2 separate regions of the Homo sapiens genome follow, and region 1 is linked to region 2. Evidence: fine-mapped expression QTL. A gene starts in region 2. The other region holds a variant in brackets. All regions are shown on one strand. Distances are from middle to middle. Region 1 holds the start of MYLK-AS2 (MYLK antisense RNA 2). Region 2 holds the start of MYLK (myosin light chain kinase).

Region 1 (15,602 bases), 190 kb after region 2:
CAAGCAGAAGCTGCAAGATGTTCATGTGGCAGAGGGCAAGAAGCTGCTGCTCCAGTGCCAGGTGTCTTCTGACCCCCCAGCCACCATCATCTGGACGCTGAACGGAAAGACCCTCAAGACCACCAAGTTCATCATCCTCTCCCAGGAAGGTAAATGAGCATGGGGGTTGGGGAAGAAGGGGCCTCTGTACCAGGGCCACTCCTAGCTCATGGAGCGTTGGTCTCGCTGACCCCTGTTAGCAGCCCATAGGTAGGCTGCTAACCTGGTTTAGCAGGTAGGAGGGCCTGCTGGGTAGGAGGGCCGCGTCCCTGTTTCCTGCTAACTCAAGGATAGGTCCCGGCTCAGGGGCCTTGGGTACATGCACCAAGGCTGGGGCTAAGGGCTGGGATCCTGGTCCTTGTGGCACATGCCCACATCTCGGCACCCATCTGGCAGAGCCCTCTCATGGCACCGCCACCTGTGGCTCCCCAGAGGAGACCTGAGCCTGAGTTAATTCCAAGCTCCGGCATGGAGAGGGCTCTGTCTACAGGCTTGGAGGTGGGGGACACAGAGGCTGGAGCCAGGGAGAAGCTCTGAGTAAAGAGCTGTTTAGAGAAGCATCTTAGGTTTGGGGAACGGTGTGCAGTGACCAGATGGCACGGAGCTCTGAGTTGGGGTCAACAATAACTTCAGTCTTGATAGCACTGTGGGTTTGAAGGGATCTGTCGGGAAACCCAAAATCCCAAAACAGCCCCTACAGCACACACTCACGGGCAGACAGAGCTACTCGCTTCCTAATTTGGATGAGACTTTTGTTTGCTGGTATTTCACATTCTTGGATGGTGGGGAGAGGAGGGGGGCCCCAAATCCTTCCATCTGTGTGGACTTTTGGGGTCTGGAGTTTTCAGAGGAGCCAGTTTATACTTGGAGAAGAGATGGGGGTGACACAGGAGTATTTTCTCTGGACCCTCAATTTGGTTTGAAGTGCTTTTGTAAATCCCAAGTCTGGGTGGGAGCTCTGAGGCCGGCCGACCTCCACACCCCATTCTGGCAGCCAGCGGAGGGATAGGTTGCCAGCACAGAACAGAGTCCTGCCTGAGCTGATGCTGGTGGCTCCAGACAGGGTAGGGTACAAAGAAGCTCCCAGGAAGTGACATTTCACCCTTGAGGGGCAGAGGGCAGCCACAGAAGAAGCCGGAGTGGACAGGTCCTGTCAAATCTGAGTCAGCTGAGGTGTCAGAGTGCTCTTCCTGTGGGCTGCTCCCCTCCCTGGCCCCTGGCAGCACCCTCCCCACTCCCTCCCTCACCTTTTATCGTGCCTGCCTTCCCCTCACAAGCAGAATGGAGCATTTGAAGATCACAGAATCCCTCTCAGCCCCCGGTAAGGGTCTGTCTTCCCTCTACATCTGGGACAGCACACCTGGAGCAGCTGAGTATATTGAATCTCAGCGCTGAAAGAGTGAAGGGGACACTGGCTGGCAGAGAGAAACATGTTATTTTCTGCTAATGTGTTGACGCAGTAACTTTTCCATGTGGATGTCCTCAGATTGGCAGGGTCCTCCAGAAGTCGTCTCCTCCATCCCCCACCTCTGCTGGCTCAGCCCCCCTCCCCTGAGGCATGGGGGATTATTGGGCTGGGGTGAGACTTCAGAGGAGCAGACGCCACAACCTGTCCTGCCGCCCCTGTGGGGCTCTCCCACTTGGAAAGTCCTTGGTAAAACTGATTGGAAACCCTGACTGGGAACATTTCCCAGGTCACCCTACGGTGATCTCTCCAGGCAGGATGCAGGGTGGCATCCACCATCCTCAGGACAAGGTTGGGGCTGTCCCCTGGCTCTCTGATCTCTTTTCATTATCTGTGGTCCCTGCATGGCCTCTCTTGCAGTTCGCATCATTCTTAATATCTTTCTTGAGTTCTTCTTTGCTAGTGGATTTCAGGTTCTCATCAGGCTTGGCGCTGCCCATGGGCTTCAGGGTCTCAGCAGGTTTGGCGTTGGGAGGTCTGTGGCTGCTCCAGCCTCAGGGAAACTGAGGTTAAGTCAGTTGGGGGCAGCTGTTCTTGGGCTTGCATGGGGTTTAAACCCAGAGCCATCAACAGCCACTTACAAACAATTCACTCAACTAAGCGATGTAAGGCAGACCCCAGGCCTGGTCTCAGAAACTCTTCTGAGCCATTAGCCACTGTCTTCTCGTGCCCTGAGTGCCTGCAGTATGTTTTCCCTGCTGGTCCCTTAGTGGTAAAGAGCCTAGAGATCCTAGCCACTCCAGCCTCCCTTCCCATGGAAACCGTCCCAGAGGGAACAGTTCAGATCCAGAGCAGCAGCAGAAGAAATGATCCAAGGAAGGCTGCACACGAAGGGGAGAGAGAGACCAGGAGAGGTGGAAAGGGATTCCAGAGAGAGCCCCAAATCAAACTGTAAGACATCTTCTAAATATTTTTAAATTGTGTTTAAAGAATAGCTGACATATGTTGAACACTATGTGTTAGACACTATCTTAGGCCTCTTACACTTTTCACCCATTTAATCCTCCCAACAATGACTGTACTGTCCACCTAACAGAGAAGTTAAGTACCTTGCCAAATGCAAGGTGCTGGGGGTAACAGAGCTGGGATTTGAACTCAGGTGGCTGAGTTCCCGTGCCTAGACCACCGTGCTATATGACCTCTTAGTTAATTCCTATTATTTTATCAGGGTACTGGTGGCAGCTGAGAATTTGTCTATCAACAGAAAACACTAATGACTATTTACTCCTCGATTTTGTTAAGAGTTGTCCAAAGGTTGAAACACTGATGGTGCCCCTAGCCTTGCCAGGTTTCTGGTATTTTCCCTGCAGTGGTGGAAGCAGACCTTGCAATGGGCCTGTCTTGCTTCAGTACAGGAGAGTGCGTTGTCTCAAAAAATCGGCCCCACCTTCTGTCCCTTCACTCGCCAAGACTTCAAGAGCCCAGTGTTTTGTTAAGGAAAAAACTTATCTTAAGGCTTCATCTATCAGTCACCATTTAAGCAGGTCCCTCCTCAGGCAGTAGGGCATTCTGAGAGGTGGAGGGAGTCTTTTCTCAATAGATGTGGAAGGAGAAGACACACTCACAGTGATAAAATTGTTACAGCCAAGTGCTGACAAGTGCTATGAGTGTGTCGGGAGGAGCTGCTGGAAGTGGGAAGAGAGGGAGCTGAGTGCTGGACTTTGATCTAAGCCCCGAAGACAGGCCAGAGGGGACGGGCTTCCAGGCGGGGGCCCCGCAGCAGCAGAGGCGTCCTGCTAACAGCTTGTTCTGGGCTGGAGAGGATGACATGGCCCCAGTTTCATCCTATATTCTGCCAAGGAATTCCAGTCTAAAGGCAGTAGGGAATCATGCAAGATTTTGGGATGAAGAACACTGTACATGAAGCTCAGTTTAGGGGTTTTGGTGGACTCTGTGCCCAAAAGACAAATACAGAGCCTACTGAAGAGGTCGAGAGGAAGATGGTGAGGCCTAGACTAGCGTAGTAGCCACAACCACAGTCAGGGAATGACCAGTTCAAGAAGCAAGGATAGAAGTAATGGCACCTGTTGCCTGGCTTGGAAGGGCAGGATGGGGGTGGGGGTAGGTAAAGAAGATGAAGGAATGGAAGACCACTAAGTGTGGGTGCCTGAGTGGCTGGGGTCTCAGTGGTCGTGTCAGTGGGAATAAGGAAGCCGGTGGTTGGAGGAGGCTTCTAGGGGAAGGTGAGGGAATGGCTCCGCTGGCCTCCCGTCCTGCATCCTTCACACTCAGCTCAGCACTGGCCCTGCCCCCGGCTTCCTGACTTGGAGCCCTTTTTGCTCCACTGCACTGATCCCCACCCTGTCAGCTCTGCTACAAACAAGATTCACTTCCTCCAGGATGCCTTCCTGTTGTCACCCACCTTTGGCCACGAGAGACTCTTGCACTGTCCCCTCCCCATCAACCTGTGTATCTGCGTGCACCAACTGCTAGTGGACGTGCTGTTTATAGGTTTCAGGGGACTTCTCTGATGTCTGTAGCTTAGATAGGGCTCATAGCCCACAGACCCCCACCCAAACAGGATTACATCACCCCATTTAGTTCACCCCCTTTCGTGCTGAGGAAAGCAGAAGAGGTTTGACAGCCATGGGCTAGAGTTCACCACTAGTTGATTTGTGGCAGGACACAGACACGTGGAGGTGTCCTTCCTCTTCCTGTACCCCTAGAGCTGCAGGGCTGATGGGATTCAGAGTTACCACCAACTGGGCCTGCCCTCTGCCCCCAAGTCTTTTCCTAGCCCTTCCGGGACCTGCCTCTGCTGAGGGGTGGTGGGAGGCCGATGGTCCCGTGAGCTGAGGGGAGCTCTGTGGTGGCCTGAGAAGAGCTTTATCTTTATGCTTTGTTTCCTGTCTCCAGGCCAGGCTCCTCCTCCTGGCAAAACACTTTTCCGAGTCTAACAATGAGGATTCATTTTTGTTGCTGTTGTGAATAGGTAATTCATTTTTAATTGCCTTCAGGGTAGAATTTTGCAAAGGCTTTTTAAAAACCCATGTAAGTTCATCCTACGAAAAATGGATTTATGCAGCATCTACTATGAGCAAGGCATTATTCTAATGCCCTTTGTTGTGTGCATAATCCACTCAAAGAACTCTGAATTTTCTTTTTTCAGAAACTATATATTATCTTTTTCAATAGTAAGTTATATTTAACTGTTTGTGACCTTTTCTTACATAGATCCTACCAGATCACCTGCTACAGAAATATGCCTTCATCCTTCTCAGAATGACAAATATGTTTTACTGTGACTGCATTCCAGGCTTAGGAAAAACAGTGGTGTTAGACAGGGTCACTGCCCTCTGAGAGCTGGTGTGGGAGACAGGCATGCAGGTCAGCAATGGCCTTGTGAGCCGTGCTTTGACATGGGTGAGCTCAGAGTTGGGAGCACAGAAGAGGTCCGCCTAGGCCTGGGGGATTAGGGGGAACAAGGAGGACACCATGCCTGCAGGGGTGACCTGGAGATGAGTCTTACTGTCTGGGCTTGCCAGGTGGGCTGGGTAGGCTGACTGAGGCAGCCCTATAGCAGAGCCTCCAGGAAGCTCCCTCCCTCCATCCACATCCCCTTCCTCCCCTCTGCCCCCAACTCAGAAAAGGAGAGAGCTGGGGGAGCTTCAGACCCAGGAGCGCTTACTCCACCACAGCCCTGAGGGGCTCTCCCAGGCGGAGCTCTGCAGTGATGCTGACCTCTCCCATCCCCCTCATCTCCCTCTCAGAATTCCCCACCAGGCTGAGGCTTCTCAAAAAAAAACCTCTGGGAAACAGCTTTTCTTCTAGAGGTCAAGAATGAACTGTCCCACAGGAAATACCAGATTCTTCATCTGGGGTAGCCAAGCCTGCAAGCCTGCTAGGGGGGCCTCCCCAAGCCCATGCACATGGCCAGGGGTCCAGGCTCTGGGCAGGTTGGAAAAGCTGCCTGCCCCATGCCTTGCCCTGGGAGAGGAGGCAGGGGCCGGGTCCACATGCCCCTCTACTCTCTGTGTACTGTCTTTGCAGCTTGTATCATTTTGACTTAAGACTCAAGGCAGCTGAGGGACTGAAACTGAAAGAAAATCAAGGATTTGAACAGGATGTGCGTTGGGGGTGGGATATCTGTTCCCAAAGCCTTAGCCCCACCCTGACTTGAGGGAAAATTTCCAGATGGGATTGGTCTCTGCTAAGCCTCTGAGCCCCTCTAGTTGGGGCCAGAGGTCATCTTGGCATCCTCCCGCCCACCCAGATGAATGGAAAGTTCTCTCTCCAGGACATGGTTATCCTCATTCCCCACTCCTGTGCCTCACGATTCTTACTCTTATGACAGACTTCCTAAAATTCCAGCCTAAATCCTCTCCATTACAGTTTCTACAAATTCTGACTCCTAACTACAAAGGGAAGAGAACAGAGTGAAGCCTTCCCGAGGTTTGGGGTCTGTATAAGGGTATAGGAAGTGGGGAGTGGGGTGCAGATCAGCCCTCTTGCCC[C/T]AGGTGGTTTATAGGATGAAGGTTTCTCTGTTTAAAACAGTACCCTGGTGGCAAGGAGTAAAGGGGAATATTACACCCTTCCTTCCTCTTCCAGCCTTAGTGAGGTTTTCTGGGCAGAACTGATATCCTTACTCTTTCTAATCTCCTTGTATTTGCTGGTCAAGGCTGTGCATTTGTGTAATGGGGGGCAGGGACAGTAGTTGGTGTCCACTCAGAATGCACCCAGCTCTTCCCTCCCAATGCCAGTGGCTTGTGGGACATGAGATGGGAGCTCCAGGCAGCAAAGTGCATGTGGCCCTGGCTCTGTCCTCCTGTGTGACGGTTGCTTCCCTGACAACAGGGGCAGCTTTGAGCAGGATGCCCTGCTATTTACTTGTTTGTGCATCTGAAAGCAAGAATAAGGAACTGCTGCCCTTCTGCCTGGCCCAGCAGGCCTCTTTCCACACCCTGAGGGAACCTCCCCAAGGGGTGGCCCAGAGGAGAAGTAACCAGTTCTGGGATGAGAGAGCTGGCAGGGGCCAGGACGAGACCCTAGATTCCTGTGTGTGCCTAGCTGACACCTCCTTCCCCAAACCAGGCCAGAAGATGGTGCTGGGAGTGAAGGCAGGCCCAGGGGAGAGTCCATGGAGAAGAAAGGCCATCCCCACTTCTCTCTGGGGCAACCAGAAGACCCAACTCCGAAGGGAGGCAGCCCCAGAGGGCCCCTCTGCAGGTCCAGTCCCCCTCATTGGCCGTGGTTCTCCAGCTCAGACACCTTTCCTAAAAAGTCAGCTCCTGGGTGTAGTCACCACCTCCCAACAGATCTTCCCACAGGCCGGTGCCCCTCCTGGACAAGGGCTCCTAGCCTCCTCCACCCACTTCTTTGCTCAAAGCTTCAAAGCTCCCTTTTCCAGAATGCAGTCACAGCATCACTGCTGTAAACAAAGTGGGACCTCCTCACCTGTCACTGTTCCTAACACAGGTCTGTAACCCTGTGTCGGACTCCTTTTCTCTCTTGGTGACGTCCAGGGGGCAGGGCCTGTGTGCATCTCCTTGTATTGTATTGGATGGTCTCCAAAGGCAGAGGCTATTTCTCTCCCTTCTTTTGCAGCTTTCTATTATGTCCCCACAAGAGGACTCTTTGGAGTGGGGGAGGAGGTATCAGGAAGGAACGTATTTAGGGATCAGTTATTTTGGACATGGGTTATAAGCAGAAAGTTCCCTGGCTTTGGTGAGGAGTGGGGGATTGGTTCCCACAAGGCCTCTGGCTTCTGGGCTCCCAGAGGCTGCCCGTGCGAGTAACACTCACCTGCTGCGCTCCAGATGCCAGGGCAGGTACTACGACCACACCTGGTTCACTCCACAATTCTTCCTCCCCAGGCTCACTCTGCTCCGTCTCCATCGAGAAGGCACTGCCTGAGGACAGAGGCTTATACAAGTGTGTAGCCAAGAATGACGCTGGCCAGGCGGAGTGCTCCTGCCAAGTCACCGTGGATGGTAGGTCGTGCCCACCCATCGCCGCCACCCATACACAGGGGTCCCATTTCTCAGCCCCTCCCTTCCTTACCATACCTTGCCTGTCAGACAGAACTGCCTCCAACACTGCCCTCCCTACCCAAAGGCATTCATTTTGGATGAATGAATATCTTTTGCCAAAAGAAAAAGAGACAGGAAGGAAAGTGGCAGCTCTACTTGATCACCTACATGGCTTCACCCCTCCCCTGGCTGTCCTGTCCCCCTCCCAGTCCTGATCCCCACACCCAGAACCTTCTGAGCTGGGAAGCTGGGGCACTGGGCAGTAGAAAAGACACACCCACAGGAAAATGACTACAGAGTATTTTACAAAAGCCACAACAAACAAGTGTCCGAGCTGGCAGGACGACCCAGCAGGGTCAGCCGTGAGGAGGAGGGAGCAGAGCGAGGTCCGTGTGGGAGACTTCCTAGAGGAGGTGAGTCGGGGCTGAGTCTCTGGACAGAGAGGACAGGGCAGCCTCTGCCAAAACAAAATGGTAGTAGTAATAATAATACTGCAGAGGGAGGTGGGAGGACACATCGGGGAGAAAGCAGGCCTGCCAGGTCTTAGCGGAGTTTCTGTGTTAGGAAGAGGCAGTGCCAAGCTGCGAGGAACTGGGCTTTGTCCTAAGGAAATGCAGGAAGTGCATTCATGACTCTTTTTTCTCTCCTTCCTGGGGAGTATAGAATTGGAACCTGAGAAGTAGGATGAACCTCGTGATGATTTAGATGAACACCCTCATTTTACAGATAAGAAACTGAGGGCATCCAGAGAGGAAATGCATTTTGGAGGGGGGCTCTCTGGCCCATTTAGGGCCAAGCTGGGGCCAGAACCCCATCCCAGGACTCACAACCCAGGATCATTTCTTTGTATTTGGCACTTACCTGGAAATGTCTCAAAAGGTAGTTTTGGGGAAATAGTTTCTTGCCCTTGAAATGTCTGGTTAATAACCATCAGAGACACATCAAAAACTAGTGTCCAAATAAGGCATCTTGAAGCCCAGCTTGGTTGTTCTTCTCCCTCCTGTGTGTGATCAGTTGAGTTCTGAAGTCCTAGCCCGTCTCACTGCCATTCCACACCATGTAGAGCCCGTGTCCTCATTCTGGACTTTACAATTGGTTTCCTGATCACAGAGCTGAGCTCTATGGAACATGATGAATGGGAGAGAGGTGGAAAAGAAAGTCTTTTTTATAAAAACACAATGGCAGCACGAATTAATTGTTAATAGCCGAAAGGTAAGCTGAACTCATCTAATACTGTGTACTTCTCCTTGGAGATCGTGCGTATATGTGCTATAGGGGCTCTGAGTCTAAGGAAGCGGACTTGATGTGTCCAAGTTTATGCTCAATTCAGAGGGGGCATGGGACACATTTTGAGGTTCTGCACAGTGGATGCTGTGGCTGATGACTCCTGTGTGGGAGTCTCTCCTCACCCAGGCTGTCACCCACCCAGATCACAGTCCTGCTTCTTTCTATACAGGTGCTGCACTGTAAAGTATAGCGTTTCTGAAAACATGATCCTTGAAGCCCACGTCTAACACCCCTCTGCTCGTTTGGGACTCACACTGGTTCCCGAGCTAGTGAAGGAGGTTATCGGCTTTCGGAGCCTCTTTAGGTCCTGTTTACATGGCTAGCTGAAGGCAGGAGAGCAATTCATTCTCCCTATCTGTAAAATGTCAGCACCTTTTCTAGATTTGTTTTCAAGATGAAATTTCCTTTTCCCCTACTGAATACACTTGGGGATTTTTTTTTTAAGGTTTGGGGAATTCATTCTGCAACTTAAAAGGCTTTGTTTGCCCAGAGTCTGCTGGCAGATTCCCTTGTCCTCTCCACTAATCTTGATGACCATCATTATTTATCCCTAATTCCTTCAAATGCAGAGTTAGGCCTCCAGCTGCAAATTGGGAGCTGGGTCTTGGAAGAAGAGCTAGAAAAGTGATAGGAGGGAGCCCAGCTGAGATAACAGGACTGACTCTCAGTCCATTGGGTTTGGTTTTGTTGACAGAAAGGATAAGGGTGGCCTCTTCCCCCTGCTTTTCTTTCCCTGTTGCTATACTTACAGATATATTAGCATCCTGTTTGCCCACATTTAGCTTTATTTTTTCATCAAGAGCCTCTCTAGGAAAGTAGTAAAGGACTGTTGTCACTTTGACAGCTCCCCTGTCGCCTTTCTATCGTCTGGTGCTCCACCCCACTGGCTAGGCTACATCTCCTGCCCTCATTCTGTCCCCTCATCCCCTCAGCTCTCCCTACTCCCCAAGGCATCATACTTGACTTGGGGATCCCAGTGGGTTTGTGCCTCCCCTGAAATTACAGGCAAAATGTTGCATTATGTGGGTTGGAGCATCTTTCTGAAGAGAGGGGTCCATAGTTTTTAGTCAAATTCTCAAAAGGAGTCATGAATCAGAATACGTTGAAGAACTACTTGCCGTAAGCAGCAACAATGACTGAATTTTCAAGCCCAGCCATTGTGTGGGCTCTTCCAGCCTGTCTCCAGCTGCAACTGCCCACCCAACCTCTGCATAGAACCAGGCCTTCATCCCTCTTATGGGGCAATGAGGTCCATCTCCACTAGGCGATGGGACTACAGCTGGTGCTGACTTCAGACTGGCTTCCCCAGCCACTCAGCAGGGCTGGCCTGGCCCCTGAAAGTCGCTATCATTCACTCATCCTGTGCCAAACACCATCGAGACCATACATCTGAGGCCAACATATCTTTCAAAATCTCATAAAAATGAGGCAAATGGGGCTAAAATAGCATTACCCACACTACTGATTCCCTCATATCATAAAGATAAGGGATGTAACCTTTATAACACAGCACAGCTGGCTATTTTAATCATGTGTTTGGGTCTTTTTCCTAAGAAAAGGGGTGTTTATGAACTTGCTTGATTATGGTCATATCACCCTTCCTTCTGAACTCAGCAGAAGACAAGGGTTAACTTGTGCCACATAGAAGGGAGCTAAAACCTAGAGTAAACGTGGACTTGCCCGAAAACTCACCCAGGAGGAGAACAAGCTGACCTTCAATGCCTGTCCTGGCCAGAGACTCTTGTGCACTTTGCATTTTCAGTCTATGCAACAGTTGGGCAGGGTGTCTTTCTCAGTGAGCAAACTGAGGCTCACCAAGGGTCAGCTGCCTTCCAGGCCCCACAGACAGTAGGTGTAGATCTGGTGTTGGGGCTCCACCCTGCACAGTGAATTACAACATGAAATATCCTGGCAGGACTCAGTGGTCTGGCTCTGAAACCTGTTCCTTTCCACAGCCTGACACAGCCTCCCCGGGCAGTGAATTACCATGGTGGGGCCCGCTCCCAGAGTGATCCAGACCTCCCTGAGTAACAGTCCTCCCTGTGGGGAGGTCCTTCTGCACGTGGGACTCAGTAACCCCTTTCCTCTCATTCCAACCCAGATGAGCAGTGAGGAAACTAAGTCCTTCCTAGGCCAGAATCCCATGAGAGGACTCAAAAAACACCTTAGCCCCTCACTGGCTCATCCAGTCATTCTCAACTCAGGCCTCCTGTCCCCAGCCACCCTGGCCAGGGCATCCAGCTTTTGGTACCAGTGAGACCAGGGCTTTGTGACCACAGAGGGTCATGCATGATTGTGATGGGAAGGGACACTCCAGTGGGTACTCATGCCATCACTCAGTCATTCAACTAATATCTGAGTGCCCACTCTGTGCCAGGCACTGCCATAGGAGCTGGTTTTAAAACAGTAAATGAAGTAGGAAAAGTTCCAGCTTTTGGGACTTTTCTAGTGGGAAAGAGGCAGTAATGCAGGTGAACAGCTGTGTCATATCCTCAGGTAATGTCACCAGCTATGAAGAAAGCAAAGCAGGGTAATGGGGGAGAGAATACCATTTTTGGAGGGGGTGGTCACTGAGGCCCCTCTGAGGAAGGAACATTTGAACAGAGACTGAAGGAAGCAGGGAAGGAAGAGGGACAAGGTGACAACAAGAGCATAGCCCTGAGCTGAGGACACTGTGCTTAAGGCGTTTCAGGAGGCAGGAGGCCAGGGTGGTGGAGCCATGAGCAAGGGGCAGGATGGTAGGAAGTGAGGTTGAGGAGGACCGTGGACCAGATCCAGGCAGTGTTGGCTAGGACAAAAAAAATGAGATTTTATTCTAAGTGTTATGGGCCAACACTGGACATTTATGAAGGATCACTCATGTCCATGTGATGACCAGACCCAGGATGAGTCAGAGGGAAAGCAGGGAGCACAATGGGGGGTTGCCACAATAGGGACAGGAAGTGATCAGATTCATAACCTCTTTGGCTGTAGAGCTGATATGAGTTGCTGGTGAGCTGGGTATGGAGAGAGAGAGAAGTTAAAGATGACTCAGTTTTCATGGGGGAGTGAAGACCAATGGTGGGGCTGGGGGGCACGATCAAGAGTTTAGTGCATGTGAAGTTTAAGATTGCTATTTGACCTCTCAAGCGGTCCTGTCACATAGGCAGGTGTTTAGGTGAACCTGGAGTTGAGGGGGAGGTCAGAGTTGGAGGTGGGATACAGGGAGCCATCCACACACAGAGGCCATTCACTGCCCTGGGGTTGAATGAGGTCCCTGGAGAGTACAGAGGTGGCTATAAGAAGAGGGAGAGAGAGAGAGGCAGGGGCAGGACAGGGGCCTGCGAAGAAGACTAAGAAGGAAGTACTCCAGTGAGATGGGAAGAAACCCAGGAGATGGGGGTGTCCCAGAAACCAAATGCTAAGAACTTCAAAAAGGAAGGAATGATCAAGATTAGTGTGCCAGGCCAGGTGTGGTGGCTCACACCTGTAATACCAACACTTTGAGAAGCAGGTGAATTGCTTGAGCCAGGAGTTCAATATCAGCCTGGGCTACATGGTGAAACCCTGTCTCTACAAAAAATACAAAAGTTGCCTGGATGCTGTGGGGCATGCCTGTAGTCCCAGCTACTCAGGAGGATGAGCCAGGAGGACAGCTTGAGCATGGGAGGTTGAGGCTACAGTGAGCCAAGATTGTACCACGGTACTCCAGCCTGTGGGACAGAGGGAGACCCTGTCAAAAAAAAAGAAGAAAGGAAGAAAAGGAAGAAAGGGAAGGAAGGAAGGAGGGAAGGAAGGAAAGGAAGGAAGGAATGAAGGTAGGAAGGAAGGAAGGAAGGAAGAAAGGAAGGAAGGAAGGGTCAGGTGCTGCTGCCAAATAAAGATGAGCCTGAGCACTGGCTATTGGGTTTGCCAACATTGAGGTCATTGGTGACCTTGCAAGAGGGCTTCAGGGGAGTGATAGTAACAATAGCCTCATCTCAGGCAAACAGAGACTGAGTCACCTGCTCAAGGTCACCCTAACTAGCAGAGTGGGAAGTTAAACCCAAGCCTTGGTGCCTAACCACTGTGATCCACTGTTATCTTGGCCCCTGGGCACTTCTGATTATTGCTGAGCTGATTTTGATCCACCCCTCCTTTCTTGGCCTCAGCCCTGCCATATTACTAAGTCTGCTCCCACCCCCACATTTATTTATTTATTTATTTTGAGACAGAGTTTCACTCTTTTTGCCCAGGCTGGAGTGCAGTGGCATGATCTCGGCTCACTGCAACCTCTGTCTCCTGGATTCAAGCCATTCTGCTGCCTCAGCCTCCCAAGTAGCTGAGGTTACAGGCACCCGCCAACACGCCCAGCTAATTTTTGTATTTTTAGTAGAGAAGGGGTTTCACCATGTTGGCCAGTCTGGTCTCAAACTCCTGACCTCAGGTGATCCACCCGCCTCAGCCTCCCAAAGTGCTGGGATTACAGGCGTGAGCTACCGCGCCTGGCCCACATTTATTCTTTAAATCATCACAGACAACTAACGGGTATTATGTGAAACTAAATAAAATTGCTGTTTTTGTAGGTCAAAAACACTTCAATACTGGCGAATGGTGTAGTTCAACCTGATCTGAGCATACAAAGTACTTAGCACCGTGCATACATGGAGTCAATACCCAGTAAATGTCAGCCATCACCTTACGACTTGGCCACACCTCCCTCACTCTTCTATTGAGGTGATGTTATTTCGGTTTTCCTTGTGAGGAAGCTCAGACTCAGAAAAGTTCAGGAACTTGCCCAGGGACTCACAACTCCTAAGCAGCAGAGCCAGAAAGCGCAAGCATCCTGATCTCTCTTCCTTACTACGCTAGCACACTGCTTGCACTCAGTCAGAGAGAGAGGCCAGCAAGGAGGGATGAGCCAACCCAGGGAGAGGCTGGAGCCCAGCCCCTCTGCCCTGCCCCACTGGGGGCCCCTAGAAGCTGGACCCCTCCCAGAAGCTTCCCAAGACCTCATGCCCCCTGCGTGGGGTCAGAGTTCAGGGAACCAGCCTCTTGGGGGAGATTAAAAAAAAAAAAACGCTGCCCAGAGAGCTTGAGTCCAGAGCCCAGGAGTGGGAGGGGTGAGGCATTGTCTATATAAGGACACATTTTCCTCTCAATGTAGAGGCCCCCCACTTCCTCACACCTCCATCTTCCTCCCCCACACTTCTTTGGGGACACAAGCAAAGGACTTCAGCCTTGGGGGCCTAGATCTAGAAATGGAGTTTAATTTCATCACAAAATGATTAAAATAGAAAATACAAGCTGCTCTTAAACTTATATTACTATTATTTTTATCCCCTGGGCAGCCATGTGAGCACAAAGCTGGTTTTGATTAGGCACATGGCCCTTCGAGCCCACTCCTTGCTGCAGTTCGCATGGAGGTCTGCTGGCTCCGCATCCCTGGCAGGGCCCCGTGGTGCATGCACAGCCCCACCGTGCTGACACTTCAAGTGGAGCGCGGCCACCCCCTGGGGCTCCGAGTCTGGGGTGTGCCTAGTTTGAAAGGGGGACTTCAGCCCCTTTCCTCATGGCCAGATGGAAAGATAAAGTGCTGCAGAAACTTCTAAAAATAAGACTCAAAGCACATTACAGGGTAGTGTACTGACACGTCCAGTGAAAACCCAGCACCCTAGGGCCGAGGACGGAGGCAGAGGCAGATGGGGCAGGGCAGGGAGTGTTTTCTGAAGGTGGAAAATTTTAAAGCTGATTCAGAAGGAGGTAAGGGAATGTGGCTATCAAGAGGAATTAATTCATAAGTGATCATTTTCATTTTCTTTTTTTTTTTTTTTTTTTCATTTTTTGGAGACAGGGTCTCACTCTGTCATCCATGCTGGAGTTAAGTGGCATGATCACTGCAGCGGCACGATCATTGCAGCCTCAAGCTCTGTGGGCTCAGGTGATCCTCCCACCTCAGCCTCCAAAGCAGCTGGGACTACAAGCACATGCCACAGTGCCTGGCTAATTTTTGTAAATTTTGTAGAGACGGGGTTTCACCATGTTGCCCACGCTGGTCTTGAACTTCTGGGTCCAAGTGATCCAACTGCCTTGGCCTCCCAAAGTCCTGGGATTACAGGCGTGAGCCACCACGCTGGGCTGATAAATGATCATTTCCTGCTTTCCAAAACACCGTTGCATGTGTTCTCTCCTTTGGGCGTCAAAACACCATGAGGTAGAGAAAATAAGTGATTCCCTTGTACAGATGTGGAAACAGAGATGGGACAGTTTAAATTATTTGCCCAAGTTCCCAAGGTTGCTGATGACAAAGCCAAAGCTAGAGCTGTACTCTCTTGGCCTCTACTGTGGTGATGCTTGGAAGTAAAGCCCAACACAACCCCATGAGGACGAAAGGAGTCTCAGTACCTGCTGCCCTTCTTTCAGGAGCCCAGGAAAACTGGGCCTCTCATACTTTGCTTTCTTGTGCCTCAGCTTACTCATCAGTTAAAAAAGCAAACCTGATCCTTCTTCTTCTCCCTCCTCTATGCTCCAAGACTCACCAGGAGAATGAGTGCTGAAGCCAAGGAGTGCAGAACTGCATACATAGTCTGCCCTGTACTCCTCTTCCTTAAGAAGGGCCGGGTGCCGTGGCTCACGCCAGTAATCCCAGTACTTTGGGAGGCTGACGCAGGCAGATCACCTGAGGCCAGGAATTCAAGACCAGCCTGGCCAACATGGCGAAACCCCATCTCTACTGAAAATACGAAAAATTAGTCAGGCGTGTACTCAGGAGGCTACTCAGGAGGCTGAGGCATGAGAATCACTTGAACCTGGGAGGCAGAGGTTGCAGTGAGCCGAGATCATGTCACTGCAGTCCAGCCTGGGTGACAGAGTGAGATTCCATT
Region 2 (15,602 bases):
TTCAGAGACCTTCACTGTAGCCCCTCCTATCACAGGCCTGGAGGCCTAGGAGGGAAAAATGTTTCATGGGCCAGGCCTAGGGCCTGGCTGCTCTGTGCAGCCTCAGGACATGGCACCCTGAGTCCCAGCTGCTCCAGCTTCAGCTGTGACTAAAAGGGGCCAAGATACAGCTCAGACAATTGCTTCAGAGGGTGCAACCCACAAGCCTTGGCAGCTTCCATGTTGTGTTGGGCCTGGGGGTGCACAGAAGGCAAGAGTTGAGTTTTTGGGAACTGATATGGTTTGGCTCTGTGTCCTCACCCAAATCTCATCTTATAGCTTCCATAATTCTCATGTGTTGTGGGAGGGACCCAGTGGGAGATGATTGAATCATGGGGGCGGGTCTTTCCTGTGCTTTTCTCAAGATAGTTAGTGGGTCTCACGAGACCTGATGGTTTTAAAAATGGGAGTTTCCCTGCACAAGCTCTCTCTTTGCCTGCGGCCATCCATGTAAGATGTGACTTGCTCCTCCTTGCCTTCCATCATGATTGTGAGGCCTCCCCAGCCATGAGTAACTGTAAGTCCATTAAACCTCTCTTTCTTCCCAGTCTTGGGTATGTCTTTATTAGCATATTAGCATTGTGAAAATGGACTAATACAGTAAATTGGTAACAGCAGAGTGGGGTGCTGCTGAAAAGATACCTGAAAATGTGGAAGCAACTTTGGAACTGGGTAACAGGCAGAGGTTGGAACAGTTTGGAGGGCTCAGAAGAAGACAGGAAAATGTGGGAAAGTTTGGAACTCCCTAGAAACTTGTTGAATGGCTTTGACAAAAATGCTGATAATAACATGGACAATGAAATCCGGGCTGAGGTGGTCTCAGATGGAGATGAGGAACTTGTTGGGAACTGGAGCAAATGTGACTCTTGTTATGTTTTAGCAAAGAGACTGACAGCATTTTACCACTGCCCTAGAGATTTGTGGAACTTTGAACTTGAGATAGATGATTTAGGGTATCTGGCAGAAGAAATTTCTAAACAGCAAAGCATTCAAGAGGTGACTTAGGTGCTGTTAAAGGCATTCAGTTTTATAAGGGAGGCAGAGCATAAAAGTTCAGAAAATTTGCAGCCTGATAATGCAATAGAAGAGAAAATCCCATTTTCTGAGGAGAAATTCAAGCCTGCTGCAGAAATTTGCATAAGTAACAGGAGCCAAATGTTAATCCCCATGACAATGGGGAAAATGTCTCCAGGCCATGTCAGAGACCTTTGTGGCAGCCCCTCCCATCACAGGCCAGGAGGCCTAGGAGGAAAACGTGGTTTCATGGACCAGGCCCAGGATCCCTGTGCTGTGTGCAGCCTGGGGATTAGGTGCCCTGTGTCCCAGCTGTTCCAGCTGGCTAAAAGGGGCCAATATAGAGCTTGGGCTGTGGCTTCAGAGGGTGCAAGCCCCAAGCCTTGGCAGCTTCCACATGGTGTTGAGCCTGCAGGTACACAGAAGTAAAAAATTTAGGTTTGGAAACCTCCACTTAGATTTCAGAGGAAGTATGGAAATGCCTGGATGCCCAGGTGGAAGTTTGCTACAGGGGCAGGGAAGTCATGGAGAACCTCTGCTAGGGCAGTGTGGGAGGGAAATGTGAGGTCAGAGCCCCGACACAGAGTCCCTACTAGGGTACTGCCTAGTGGAGCTGTGAGAAGAGGGCCACTGTCCTCCAGACCCCAGAATGGTAGATCCACTGACAGCTTGCACCATTCGCCTGGAAAACCACAGACACTCAATGCCAGCCCATGAAAGCAGCCAAGAGGGAGGCTACATCCTGCAAAGCCACAGGGGCAGAGCTGCCCAAGACCATGAGAACCCACCTCTCACATCAGTGTGACCTGGTTGTGAGACATGGAGTCAAAGGAGGTCATTTTGGAGCTTTAAGATTTGACTGCCCTGCTGGATTTCGGACTTGCATGGGGCCTATAGTCCCTTTATTTTGGCCAAATTCTCCCATTTAGAATGGCCATATTTACCCAATGCCTGTACTTTCATTGTATCTAGGAAGTAACTAACTTGCTTTTGATTTTACAGGTTTATAGGTGGAAGGGACTTGCCTTGTCTCAGATGAGACTTTGGACTGTGGACTTTTGAGTTAATGCTGAAATGATTTAAGATTTTGGCGGGCTATTGGGAAGGCATGATTGGTTTTGAAATGTGAGGACATGAAATTTGGGAGATGCCGGGGCAGAATAATATGGTTTGGCTCTGTGTCCCCACCCAAATCTCATCTTGTAGCTCCCATAATTCCCATGTGTTGTGGGAGGGACCTGGTGGGAGATGATTGAGTCATGGGGATGGGTCCTTCCTGTGCTGTTCTCATGATAGTGAATGGGTCTCACAAGATCTGATGGTTTTAAAAATGGGAGTTTCTCTGCACAAGCCCTCCCTCTGCCTGCTGCCATTCATGTAAGATGTGACTTGCTCTGCCTTGACTTCCACCATGATTGTGAGGCCTCCCCAGCCATATGAAATTGTAAGTCCATTAAACTTCTTTTTCTTCCCAGTCTCACGTATATCTTTATCAACAGCTTGAAAATGGACTAATTCATGAACCTCCACCTAGATTTCAGAGGATGTATGGAAATGCCTGGGTGTCCAGGCAGAAGTCTGCTGCAGGGGCAGAGGCCTTATGGAGAACCTCCACTAGGTTTGTGTGGAGGGGAAATGTGGAGTTGGAGCCCCCACACAGAGTCCCCACTGTGGCACTGCCTAGTGGAGCTGTGAGAAGCAGGCCACCATCCTTCAGACCCCAGAATGGTAGATCCACCAACAGTTTGCACCATGCACCTGGAAAAGCTGCAGGCACTCAATGCCAGCCTGTGAAAGTAGCCACAGGGGCTATACCCTGCAGACCCACTGGGGTGGAGCTGCCCAAGGACTTGGAAGAGCATCCTTGCATCAGCATGCCCTGGATGTGAGACATGAATTCAAAAGAGATTATTTTAGAGCTTTAAGATTTAATGACTTCCCTGCTGAGTTTTGGATTTGCATGAGGCCTGTAGCCCCTTTGTTTTGGTCAATTTCTCCCTTTTTTTTATTTGAGATTGTGTCTCCCTCTGTTGCCCAGACAGGAGTGCAGTATCACGATCTTGGCTCACTGCAGCCTCTACCTCCTCAGTGCAAGCAATCCTCCTGCCTCAGCCTCCAAGTAGCTGGGATTACAGGCACGTGCCACCACACTTGGCTAATTTTAAAAATATTTTTAGTAGAGACAGGGTTTCACCATGTTGCCCAGGCTGGTCTTGAACTCCTGACCTCAAGTAATCCACCTGCCTTGGCCTCCCAAATTGTTGGGATTTCAGGTGTGAGCCACTGCACCTGGCTGCAATTTCTCCCTTTTGGAATGGTAGCATTTACCCAATGCCTATATCCCCCTTGCATCTTGGAAGTAACTAAGTTGTTTTTGATTTTACAGGTTCATAGGCAGAAGGGATTTATTTGTCTCAGATGAGACTTTAGACTGTGGATTTTTGAGTTAATGTTGAAATGAGTTAAGATTGGGAGACTATTGAGAAGGGATAATTATATTTTGCAATGTGAGCAGGACATGAAATTTGAGAGGGGTTGGGGTGGAATTATATGATTTGGATTTGTGTCCCCACCCAAATCTCATGTTGAATTGGAGGAGGGGCCTGGTGAGAAGTGATTAAATCATGGATCATGGGGGTGGATTTCCCCCTTGCTGTTCTCATGATAATAAGTGAGTTCTCACAAGATCTGATGGTTTAAAAGTGTATGGCACTTCCCCCTGCATTCTCTCTTTCTCCTGCCACTATATGAAGAAAGCACTTGGTTCCCCTTCACCTTCTGCTATGATTGTAAGTTTCCTGAGGCTCCCTAGTCATCCTTCCTGTTAAGCCTGAGGAACTGTCAGTCAATTAAATCTCTTTTCTTCATAAATTACCCAGTTTCAGGTAGCTCTTTATAGCAGTGTGAAAACTGACTAATGCAAGTTGAAAGAAAAAGAAGAGCCAGATAAAAGTGAGTGAGGGAAACAGAGCCAGGAAATCTTAGAAGTCCAGCCACCATATATATTTTTTGACACTACTCAGAAACAACAAACGGGAAAGCTTTGTGAAGTTTGAAAAACTGTCTGGACCAAATCTCCTTTTAAAAGTTCAAGAAAACAAAATTCATGTAAAAATGATCAACAAAAAAAATACTAAGGTCAACTCTCATATAGCTACTACAACAAAGTGAATAAAGATCATAATAACCTCCAGAAAGATATTCTCAAAAAAATTAAAGCTATAATGTCCTAGAAAAGCTAATACACACTGAGTGACATGAAACATGAAAGAACAACATACATCAGAATTAGAGAAACTCAGAAATTAGAACAGAACTCACAGAAGAATTAAACGTTTTATTTTTTATTTTTTTTTGGAATTAAACATTTTAAAAAGCATTTGAGAAATAAAGATTGACCTATAAGGAACACAAGAACACATAAATATAACTAATAAAAACTTAAAAGAAAATAAGGTAAAAAGGAGGGAAATTTATAAACTTAAAAACAAATGAAGAAAGAAATTAAAAAGATTTAAGGGAAAGTGACAAATGTTGAAGATAGACAAAAAAGGTTCAATATGCAGATAATAGAAGTCTCCAGAGAAGCAGTCTAAAGCAATCCAAAACAGAACAAATATTTAAGACTTTAATTGAAGAAAATTTTCCTGAAATTAACAAAATATATGTATTTGAAACCACATTTTGAAAGAAATACACACTGTTTACTTTCAAACTAGAATGACCAACAAACATTCTAATAAAATTACTGGATTTGAAAGAAAAAGATAAAGTTATTTGGGCATCTAGGCAAAGTGAGAAGGTGCCGTCTACAAACCAGAAAGAGGGCTCTCAACAGATACTGAATCTGTTGGAGCCTTGATCTTGGACTTCCCAGCCCCCAGAACTATAAGAAATAATGTTTCTTGTTTATAAGCCACTTATTTTGTGTTTTTTTTTTTTGTTGTTGTTGTTATAGCAACCCAGCTGGACCAAGACACCAAGTAGTTTGAATCCAACAAAATTGACCTTCAAGTAAAATGGCATGAACAAACTGTAAGCAACATGCAAGAACTCAGAGCATATTCTTTCCATGAGCCCTTCCTAAGGAATCTAGTAGAGGACAAGCTTTCAGACAACCAAAATGACTAAAGATACATAAACATAAGGAACTAATGGTAAGCATTAAATATATATTTGAACTTTAATTAGGATTAGAATTGTAGAACTGTAAAATTAAGACTAAATTAGGGTTAAATAGGAAGATTATGGTATAGATGGCTATAGAAGCTGATAATTTAGATAGAGTATAACTATAAAAGATGGATAGCATATGCAAAAAAAACTGTTTTCAAGAATCAAAACTGATGATGGTAGTATTAATATTGTTATTCTGAGATTATTATTATATGTTTAATGCAAACTAAAGCAAATTAGTAAATTGGGATATTCTAATTTCATCCTCCCTTTTGTCCTTGAGAACCAGAATTCTCTACATGAAAGAAAAGAGGTCCTAATGTAATATATGTTAAGTAAAAACTACAGTCCTGAAATTAAATTGGAAATAATATAAACTGATGAAAATATTATGAAGAATAATATTTCTCTAGAATATAAAAAAATGAAGTATTCTTTAGTAGCTCTGTCTATTGAAAAGGCCTAGAAACAGTTACCAACCTAGTAACAATGAATACTCCTAGTGCTCATATTGTTATCTTAAAATTTCAACAAAAGAAACTAGAGCTTCTGGCCAGGCGGGGTGGCTCATGCCTGTAATCCCAGCACTTTGGGAGGCCGAGGTGGGCAGATCACGAGGTCAAGAGATTGAGACTATCCTGGCCAACATGATGAAACCCCGTCTCTACTAAAAATACAAAAATTAGCTGGGTGTGGTGGCACGTGCCTATAATCCCACCTATTCAGGAGGCTGAGGCAGGAGAATCCCTTGAACCAGGGATGTGGAGGTTGCAGTGAGCCGAGATCGTGCCACTGCACTCTAGCCTGGTGACAGAGTGAGACTCCATCTGAAAGAAAAGAAAGAAAGAAAGAAGGAAAGAAGGAAAGAAGGAAAGAAAGAAAGAAAAAAAGAAAGAAAAAGAGAGAGAGAAGGAAGGAAGGAAAGAAAAAACAAAAAAACTAGAGCTTCTTGGAGAAATGGCTGATTCCAGGTTTGAGGCAGCAAATGTACAGATGTGCCTGGAACATCTTGTCATATCAGATAGCAAGGAAGCTATCAAAGACTTCTAGGGTCTTTGAAGCTCTTTGCACACTAGTGAGAGAGAGAGAGAGAGAAAAAAAAAAAGACTACTAGAATCTTATCAAAAGGAGCCAGGAGCCATATTGAAGAAGCTCCTACTGGCCAAAGATGGGACAATTTGAGCTCTAATATCGTAGATGGAAACCTATCAAATATATTTAAATTCATGAATTTATAATGATATTAAAGAAATCTAAGAATGACAGAGAATCAATTCCTTAACTTGAAAACTGGGTAATTTTTTTAAAAAAAAGCAGGTATTCATCGTGCCTTTCCTATCTCAGGGTAATCAAATAGTAGATGAGAGGAAGCATCTCCTTATCCACTTATGAACTAATAAATGAAAACAAAATTATTAGAATACCATGATTTTGCAAACTTCAATTAATTAATGAATCTAGGAATTGAGCATCGACGGCTGTTAACCTCAAAAAAGAGCAAACACCAGACATCATGATCATGTACCTCTTGAAGAAAAGAACACACAACCATCTATAATCTTACAAAAGACATCAAACTTCAGTCTGAGGAAGACCCTGGATCAGCTGCCAACTTGCTGTCAATACAGAGGACAGAGAAACATGCTGAATTGCCTCATGAATGTGCAACCCCCAGACTCTGGAAAACCTCACAGATCAAGGGCTTAAGTTATTTAACAAATAATTGTAAGGAAAAGACTGAAAAGGCAAATCAAATTAAAAAAAAAAAGAGTGGGGGGAGGGGTAAGGTGCACCCTTGGAAGATACCAAGAAAAACAAAAGCAGCAGAAGTGACTACATGAAAGTCAGGTTAGTGGTTACTTTTGGGAGGAGGGAGAAAGGGGGTTGTCATTGAGGTAGGGCACATGGAGAGGCTCCTGGGGTGGCTGGCAGAGTTCTATTTCTTGATCCAGGTGGTGATTACAAGGATGTTCCCTTTATAATAATTCACTAGTCTATATATCTATATATTTGTTTTTTGTGGTTTTCTGTATTTATGTTTTATTTTACAATTAAAAAATTTTTAAAAACACTCCTTAACCTGCAGTAAACAGTTTTTTTAAAAAAAACAAAAGAAGGTCCAAGTGAAGAGATCAGAAGCTATAAAATATTTCATATTGGGTGCAAACTAAATATAAAGCAAGCCAAAACCAGAAACACCTCCTCCCCCTCCCCTCCCCCCCCTCCCCTTTCCCCTTTTTTAATTTAAAGAACTTTGTAGGTATCTTCCAAACCAATGAGAGATTCTTAACACACACAAAGGGAGGATGTCAGAGGAACCATGGGGCTGAGTTGCACCACTGGAGGATGTCTGAAAAAAACTACATAGACAACCTTCCAGCACTAAAACTTTAGCCCCATGGTTCCGCTGACATCTTCATTTTACAGATTAGAAAACTGAGGCCCAGAGGCAGCCAGTGTCTCATGCACGCTCACGAAGCTAGCATCAGACCCCGACCTAAGGCCTAGGTCTCCCAGTGTAGGACTAAGACACGCACCAAGACAGTACCAGCCCGCTGACCGCCGCCTGCGAGGAGTTAACTGGGGCGGTGCAGGATAAGTGCGAGGGGGGCCCGGGTCTGGCGCTAGGTTTGGCTGCGGATTCTCCGCTCCGGACTCCGAGGCAGAAGGCGGGTGGGCGTGGCGGGAAGGGCAGCAGGTCCACTCCCCGAGCGCTATGCAAATGTCATGCAAATCAGTGCATGGGGGCTGGAGCGGGTGGTTTGAGTCCTGACCCCGTAGCGCCGCGCTCTCACTCGCTCTCCTCAGCGCGCGTCCGCTCTCCGCTCTCCCACTTGCTCTCTCTCTCGCCGGTTCGCTCACCCCCGCCCCGCCCCGCCCCGCCCCGCCCTGCCCAGTCCCGGACGCGCCTCGCGGGCTCCCCGCGCCGCCCGGTCGGCAGCAGGGCGCTGAGCGAGCTCGGAGCCCGCGCTGTGCGCCTGCGGCCGGGGCGCCCCGCCGAGCGCCGGTGCCCCGGCTCCCGGGCCGCCTTCGCCGCGCGGGTGAGTGAGCCCGCCCCATGCTTTTGTCCAGGCGCGGGCCCTGGAAGTCAAGGCTCCGAGGGTGGGAGTTCTGGGTGGGGGCTGGGACCCCCACCGTCTGTGCCTCCCGACTCCCCTAATGGAGAGGGGCCCCGGGGTGCGGCGAGGAGTCAGGGGCGTAAGGAGACGACCCCAGTGACGCCAGGCTGCACGAGTTTTCTTTTGGGGAGATGAAGTGCTTGGGGACACTGATGCGATTGCCTTTCTAGGAATCATCCGAAGGGGGTGCCTTTGATTTGAGGGGCGGAGGAGAAGCGGACCCTTCTCCCAGCTCCCAGACCCTCGCTAGAGGACTCGGTGACGGCCTCTGGGAAGGGGGTGCCACGTGAAGGTCCTTCCAGCCCAAATGTGATTCCGGGAAGGTAGGGCGGGGAAGGCGGCCCGCGAGTGCCAGACCTGGCCATCCCAGGCGAAGCTGGGGCGCGGGCTTTGCAGACTTGTTCCTACTCCATACTCCTCATTTAAGCTCCTTACCTCGCTCTGCCTCCTTCGCGTTAACTGGGGTCCCATTGTTGAGGGACCTTGTTCGCCGATGATTGCAGTTGGAAAGTTTTGGATAAACTTCTCAGGAGATGTGAGTTGTCAATGGTTGAGGTAGACCCCTCCCTGGAACTTATGGAACTAAAACCCTTCAAGACCCAAAGGACTGAATTTCTAGGAGTGGCATTGCAGATGTGAAGATGGGCTGATGGGGAAATGGTTTCAAGGATATATATTTTTTTTAGATTGGGGTGTGTGTGTTGGGGTGCGGGGCACTTTCTATTTCGTAGCCAGAAGGAGAAGACCCAGCTCTACTAGAGTCTAGAGGGAGTAAAATTAGCTGTTGTGATTCAGGGAGCTGGGTGGGTGTAGGGAAACACCTGGGCAGTGGGCATGATGCCAGACCTCAGGCCGTTGGTTTTTACCATCCCTCCTCTCCCCAAGTGCAAAGACCAGAGTATATGCAATGACCCGCCCACCCCACAGCCTTTGAGAGCCTGCCCTGGAGCTGCATCCCCCTTCCAAGAGAGGCTGTGTTCTTCTCCACCTGAATGGAATACTTTTTGTCAAAATGCACTTATCAATAAATTATTTCCAGATGGTGGGCTTAGGAGGACCATTTGGGGAACCCCGCCCACACTTCAAAGAATCAGGAATCAACAATGCAAGTCTCTGGGAGAAGTGTAGGTGCATCTGGTGACTTTACTAGGTTCCTACAAGGCATTTAGGGTTCTAATAGAACTGTTTTCTTTTCTCTTAAATTCTTGACCTCCTTCTCTCTTCCGTGATTCTCTTAGTCTCTTCCCCGCCTGCACACTGTGGGACTGTGGAGGATGATGCTGCTGGCACCACAGTGCTCTAGGGCAGCATGGAATTTTCCTTCCTGCCCAGAGTGAGGTTACCCCTTTTTCTCCCACTCTCAGTGGGCCAGGAGCCTTGGGTCTGGGAGGAACCTGAGCAGTTGGTCCTGGGTCCGGAGTGGTTGGACTCTGGATGCTGGATTGGGTAGCGGGTACTCTGGGGACATGCACAAGAGCTTTTTTTGCCAAGATGTGCAGGTCTGTCTCATTGTTCACTGATGATACAAAGGATGCTGGACCTCATTTGCAGCTAAGCATGAGCTTGGAGAACCACCCCACAGTGGGGAAGCATTTATGCTGGTTTATCTCCCATGTTCAGTTTCTTTTGTGTAATAACTGGCTAGCTGAGGAGGAGGGTAGCTGCAGCATTGTAGATGTTTCCTTGTCTTATTTTTATTTTTATTTTTTATTTTGAGACAGGGTCTGGCTCTGTTGCCCAGGCTGGAGTACAGTGGCGTGATCTCAGCTCACTGCAACCTTGACCTACCAGGCTCAAGGAATCCTCCACCTCAGCCTCCTGAGTAGCAGGGACTACAGGTGTGTGCCACCACACCTGGCTAGTTTTTTGGATTTTTTGTAGAGATGGGGTCCTACCATGTTGTCCATACTAGTCTAATGGGCTCAAGTGATCGCCCACCTCTGCCTCCCAAAGTGCTGGGTTACAGGCATGAGCCACTGCACCCAGCCAGAGTAGTTGCTGTTTGTGTGAGGTTTGCTCACCCCTTCATCAGGGGCTGCTTCCCCAGGGGCCAGATCTTAGAAAACATATGCAGAGCAGACTAGGCCTTGGAACATTCCTAGGCTAACTGGTAAGGCCAGGTGGCCCCACCTGCTGCCTGAAAATGGTAGACAGACAGCTACAGTCACTGCAGAGGAGGGGCTCCTGGCTGGCAGGTGGCGGGGGTAATCTGCTGAGAAGGCTTGTCAGAGAAGGAGGTGACCCAGATGGTGCAGAGGGGAGAGGCCTTTGAGTTCCAAGGGTGGGGAAAGGTTCTGGGTCTCTGGCTAGGGAGATCTTTGCTGGTCTCAGAGGCATAGATTGTGAATGCGCTGGGGTCACCATATACTCAGTGTCTTTGAGAATGACCCCTTGCTTTTATCCTCAAAATATAAGATGAGCCTAGAGTTTGAAACACAACTAGTTGGCTTGTCTGTCTTTTAGGAAGTTCATAAGGTGGGGTGGGGGTTTCAGAATGCAGCCTTGCTTGGGGACATGGGTACAGTGTCCCATGAGTATGGGGTGTCTTATTTAGTATCTTTCTGAGAACAATACTTGGGAGTCTGGAAATATAAGCCTACTTGGAAGCCCAGCTGCACCTCTCACAGCTCAAACCAACCCACACAGGCTGGGAGATTGTTCATTCTTAAAAGCTTCCTGTCCTGTCTTTTCAGCAAATGTAGTAAAATTTAGAAACAACACTTAAAAAGTATCCTTTCCCAACAAAAGACAATGTCCTCGCTCAACTTGGCCAGCAGAGGGTGCATGCAGAGGACATGAGGCAGGGCCATTTGCATGGAAAATGTCCATGTGGATGCTTAGGCCTGAGCAGGGTCTATTGGGTGGCCTGAGTGCTCAGAATCAAGGAACCGTCCAGCAGTGAGCCAGAGTGGGACAGAACGATGTCACTGTGATGAGCTCCTATGCCATGTGACTTCTATCTCTTCCCTGTGCTCCCCCAGCCTCCTACCTTACAAGCAGGCAGACATGGTTGTGCGGGGAAGCAGTGCCCATACAAGCCACGCCCCTCTCCCACCTGCACCATTCTGCAGATGGATTCTCTTTATTCTTCCTTGAGTTTTGGCTGCACACTTTTCCATTCGTTTGATGCCAACAGGTTGAGCAAATGCATTCCCCTCACAAACTCAAGGTGGGTGGACCTCCGTATTTGCACTGCGGGCCAACAGGTGCATCCCTCCTCCTTGTTGCATGCACCTGGTGTGTGAGGGCTGCAGCCCCCATGAAATTTACTGACAGCCAGCCCAGTCAGCTGGGGCAGGAGGAGAGCCAGCAACAGTTGCTGCCTCATGGGCTGGAAGGTAAGGCTGTGTTTCCAGATGCTCCCACCACCTTCTTTTCCCTGCCCTCCTGCTCACTGTACTTCAGTGTCTGAGGGTGAATGGGCACCCCACTAGGGAGCTGTGGAAATTTTTGTGTAGATCCAGCTTCTTAGATTTCCCACGTTGTCCCCATCCCCCCTCTGTTGGTACTTCCTTGCCCCCCTTCCACCCTCTGCTCCTCTCCTTCCCTGGGTCTTCAGTGCAGAGCCCTCTGGAGACAGAAAGCCCCTTTGGAGACAAAAGAAAAGGGATGAGGAGAGGATTTCCTTTTCTTTCAGACCTGCTTCTTGATTTTTTTTCCCTTGGCTCTGGGCGCTCAGATCTGATGCTAATTTGTTAATCCAGGACCTTATGGGTTATTTCTCATAATCTTTGGGGGAACCGAACACCTGCAACTTGGGGCTTTTATAGTTGAGGATGCTGTTTACCTTTCTTGTTTTCAGAGATGAGGATTTCTGATGTATAGTAGGTCTCATTCAGGTTTCTGGCAGGAGGAGGCAGCCAGGCAGAATGTGATCTTTGGTGTTAAACTTGGGTTCAGTTCCATCCCATTCACTTACTGGCTGGGTGTTCTTGGGCATGGGTTTTAACCTCTGTGAGCTGACTTGAGTTTTGTCATCTGACAATGAGGGCGGTTATAAAAATTAAATGAATATAGGAATATAAATAGGCACAAAACAAAGAATAGCTTTTATTATATATACCGGGCAGTGTTCTCCAGGTCTATATAATGACTTGTAAATCAACCAGCAGACACTAATGATGTCTACTTTCTATTGAGCTCTGTAGAGGCTTATAAAACAAAGGTAAATGTGGGCCAGGCACGGTGGCTCACGCCTGTAATCCCAGCACTTTGGGAGGCCAAGGCAGGTGGATCACAAGGTGAGGAGATTGAGACCATCCTGGCTAACGCGGTGAAACCCCGTCTCTACTAAAAATACAAAAAATTAGCCAGGTGTGGTGGCGGGCGTCTGTAGTCCCAGCTACTCGGCTGTAGTCCCAGCAACTCGGGAGGCTGAGGCAGGAGAATGGCATGAACCCAGGAGGCGGAGCTTGCAGTGAGCCAAGATGGCGCCACTGCACTCCAGCCCAGGCGACAGTGTGAGACCCCGTCTCAAGAAACAAACAAACAACAACAACAAAAAACAAAGGTAATGTGTCTATGCTAAGAGACTCTGGGTGGGTAGCAAGAGAGCTAACACATAGGTAATTAGAAAACAGGGACAACATGCAATTTCCAAGTTTCATTAACAGAATTAAAGGATGACAAGAAATTCAGGGGCTAGAGTGATGCAGGAAGGCCTCAAAAATGGAGAGGAGGAAGGGAGGGTAAGCATTTGCCAGGAGAGAGGAAGGCAGGAACATTTGGCTCCGGTGTCTGAAGGCTGTTAGCTCCTTCCTTGCTGGGCCCTGGCACAACACCTTTGACCTTGCAGCGCACTCCCAAACATGCAGGTGTGCTTGTCCTGAGGTTTATTTTGGGGGTGGTTTTCATTCTGGCCTTGTTTTCCCTCTGCTGCCAATAATATTTCTGAAACATCTGAAATTGTTTTATTTTATACTCGATCAAAAATATTAAGAGGCAATTGGGTGGCCAGAGTGAAAGCCCAGAGGCCCGTAGAAGACTTTTGGGTTTCTGGGGCTTTGTGTTCTCTTTTCATGCCTCATATATTGTAGCTCACTTCCTAGTTCTGGAATCACAGGGTGTTAGGACTAAGGGTCAGGTCCACTTGACCTTTGCATTGGACTGAAGAGGAAACTCTGGCCTAAGATGCCAAGTGGTGGCTGGGCACCGTGGTTCACGCTTGTAATCCCAGCACTTTGGGAGGCCAAGGCGGGTGGATCACCTGAGGTCAGGGTTCAGGACCAGCCTGACCAACGTGGTGAAACCCCATCTCTACTAAAAATCCCAAAATTATCCAGGTGTGATGGCAGCCTCCTGTAATCCCAGCTACTCGGGAGGCTGGGGCAAGAGAATCACTTGAACCCAGGAGCAGAGGTTGCAGTGAGCTGAGATCATACCACTGCACTCCAGCCTAGGCAACAAGAGCAAGACTTCGTCTAAAAAAAAAATCCAAGTAGTAGAGCCAGCATCAGCCAGAGTTCTCATCACTACCTATCCTGGTGGAGGATGGTGATGGCATAGGAAGGTGAACGGCCTGACATAGGCAGGAAGAATGGATACACATTGGTTCCCTCATCTGCCCACCTGCTTCTCTAGAGTCCTTTAAGGCTGTCCTCTTTAGTCTGAGGGTCCAATGGGGAGCAGGAGTGAATGTCCTACCTTTATCTGGCCTGTGATCACTGCCATCTGTCTGCTTCAGGGCCCCTGGATACCGAGTGCTGTTCCCCTTTCCTGGGGTCAGACTACATGGAATGTCATCTGAGGCTGTGGGAAACACCAGGAAGATGCCCCGGGTTTGGGGGCTAGCTTCAGCACTGTCTTCTGCTATGTGACGTGGTATCTCCAGGTCTCAGATTGTGCACCTTTAAATGGACAGAGAAGCCCTTCTCTACTCATCTGATGAGGCTGTAGGCAGATGAACACGTGCTTGGCAACCTGTGCTTGTGCTGTGGTCGTAAGGGTAGTGTCCTGCTAGGCACTGTGCTCCTGGAGGTCACCAGCTGTGGTTCATCTTGTATCCTTACTCATAGCCTGGTGCCTGACACACCACAGGTGCTCAGTACATCTGGGTGGAAGGACTGGCTAATGGGGTAAATGGAGGTGCTCAGAGAAGATTCTAAGGGATTTGCTGTGTGCCACTCCATGAGAAGGCACTTTCCACTCATTCACCTCACTTCTTCAGTTATGTCTTCTGTAGGGCTAGGTATACTTCATTCTAACTTTTCTCCTGAGCTTTATGCATCTTTCCAGCCAAGTACTGAGTCCATTCACAGAACATGACTCAAGCAGATGTATTCCTAAACTTCCCCATTGTCCAAGTTAAATTTCCATTTGGTATTTTCCTATTAGTGTCAACAGGGTGATCATTTTCGTAATCACTTGGTTGCTGATCTTGTGGAAACGAGTATGTTCATGAGGAAGCAGCAGGTGGCTTTAGAACGTGCCTGGAGGAACAGTTCTTATCTTGCAACCTGCCTCTGATTACTATCAAAAGCTCCTGCCTTTCCAATAGTCACTCATGGTATACATGATACAATCAACGCAGTTGCTACTGATGTTACCCAATAGTATGTTTTAGGGAGTTCTCAGGCTTCTTATTGTGATTGGGCAGGCACCTAGGGACTCAGCTCCTCCCCTGTGGGCCTGCTGATTATCCCAGGCAGAGAAACACTTGGTTTTACTTTGATATTACTATTTTTTCCTGACCAGACCGTACTAGCTCACACTTGGAGTATTAACTGTGGCTTCTCTGTAGCCCAAATACATCGTACACTTGATTGCTTTGTTGATCTAAAACATAGTCTGACTGTGTCACCACCTTCAGGAACCCCCGGTGGCTCCCTGTTTCACACAGAACAGCCTTAAGCCATTCACAGGCCTCTATAATCTGACCTCCAAGCCCAGTCTCATAGCAGCCACCCCCACACTCCTTGATCCCACTACAACCAGACTTCTTGTCTCAGCCCAATTGATACTTTCCTGTGTCTCTGACTGTGACTGTGAGTTCATCCTCACCTGGAATATTCTTCACTTGTCTGTTTGATTGACAGGTTCTTCTATCCTTAAACATTTGTTCAGGGAATGAGTTAAGTTCCTAATAACTGTCAGATACTGCCCCCAGAGGCTGCCTCTGACCTTTTCAGCCTCAACTTCTCTAGAAATAAGTCCCTGTAAAATTCTTTTTACAGAGACAAGTCATAAATTATTATGGTATGTTTTTATCATTTGTTTAATTTTTCTCATGCTAAAATTTTATATCTGTAACTATAC

Evidence for each region. PIP is the estimated chance that this variant, and not a neighbour inherited with it, causes the effect.
Region 1: its variant is fine-mapped to the expression of MYLK in whole blood (INTERVAL, PIP above 0.99).

The regions. Positions count from the first base shown.
Region 1 is chr3:123,684,567-123,700,168 of GRCh38, reverse strand. It overlaps MYLK (myosin light chain kinase), which reads left to right. Exons shown (of 34, transcript NM_053025.4): 18 at 1-149; 19 at 7,318-7,434. It overlaps MYLK-AS2 (MYLK antisense RNA 2), which reads right to left and starts at 10,525. Exons shown (of 3, transcript NR_046629.1): 1 at 10,453-10,525; 2 at 8,335-8,592; 3 at 7,762-7,930. LOC105369194 (a long non-coding RNA gene) reads right to left here and starts at 7,353. Exons shown (of 3, transcript XR_924417.4): 1 at 7,247-7,353. The variant C/T (reference allele first, on the strand shown) is at 5,959.
Region 2 is chr3:123,876,874-123,892,475 of GRCh38, reverse strand. It overlaps MYLK (myosin light chain kinase), which reads left to right and starts at 8,144. Exons shown (of 34, transcript NM_053025.4): 1 at 8,144-8,270. It also overlaps a transcript of CCDC14 not described here. RefSeq lists a silencer at 8,105-8,264.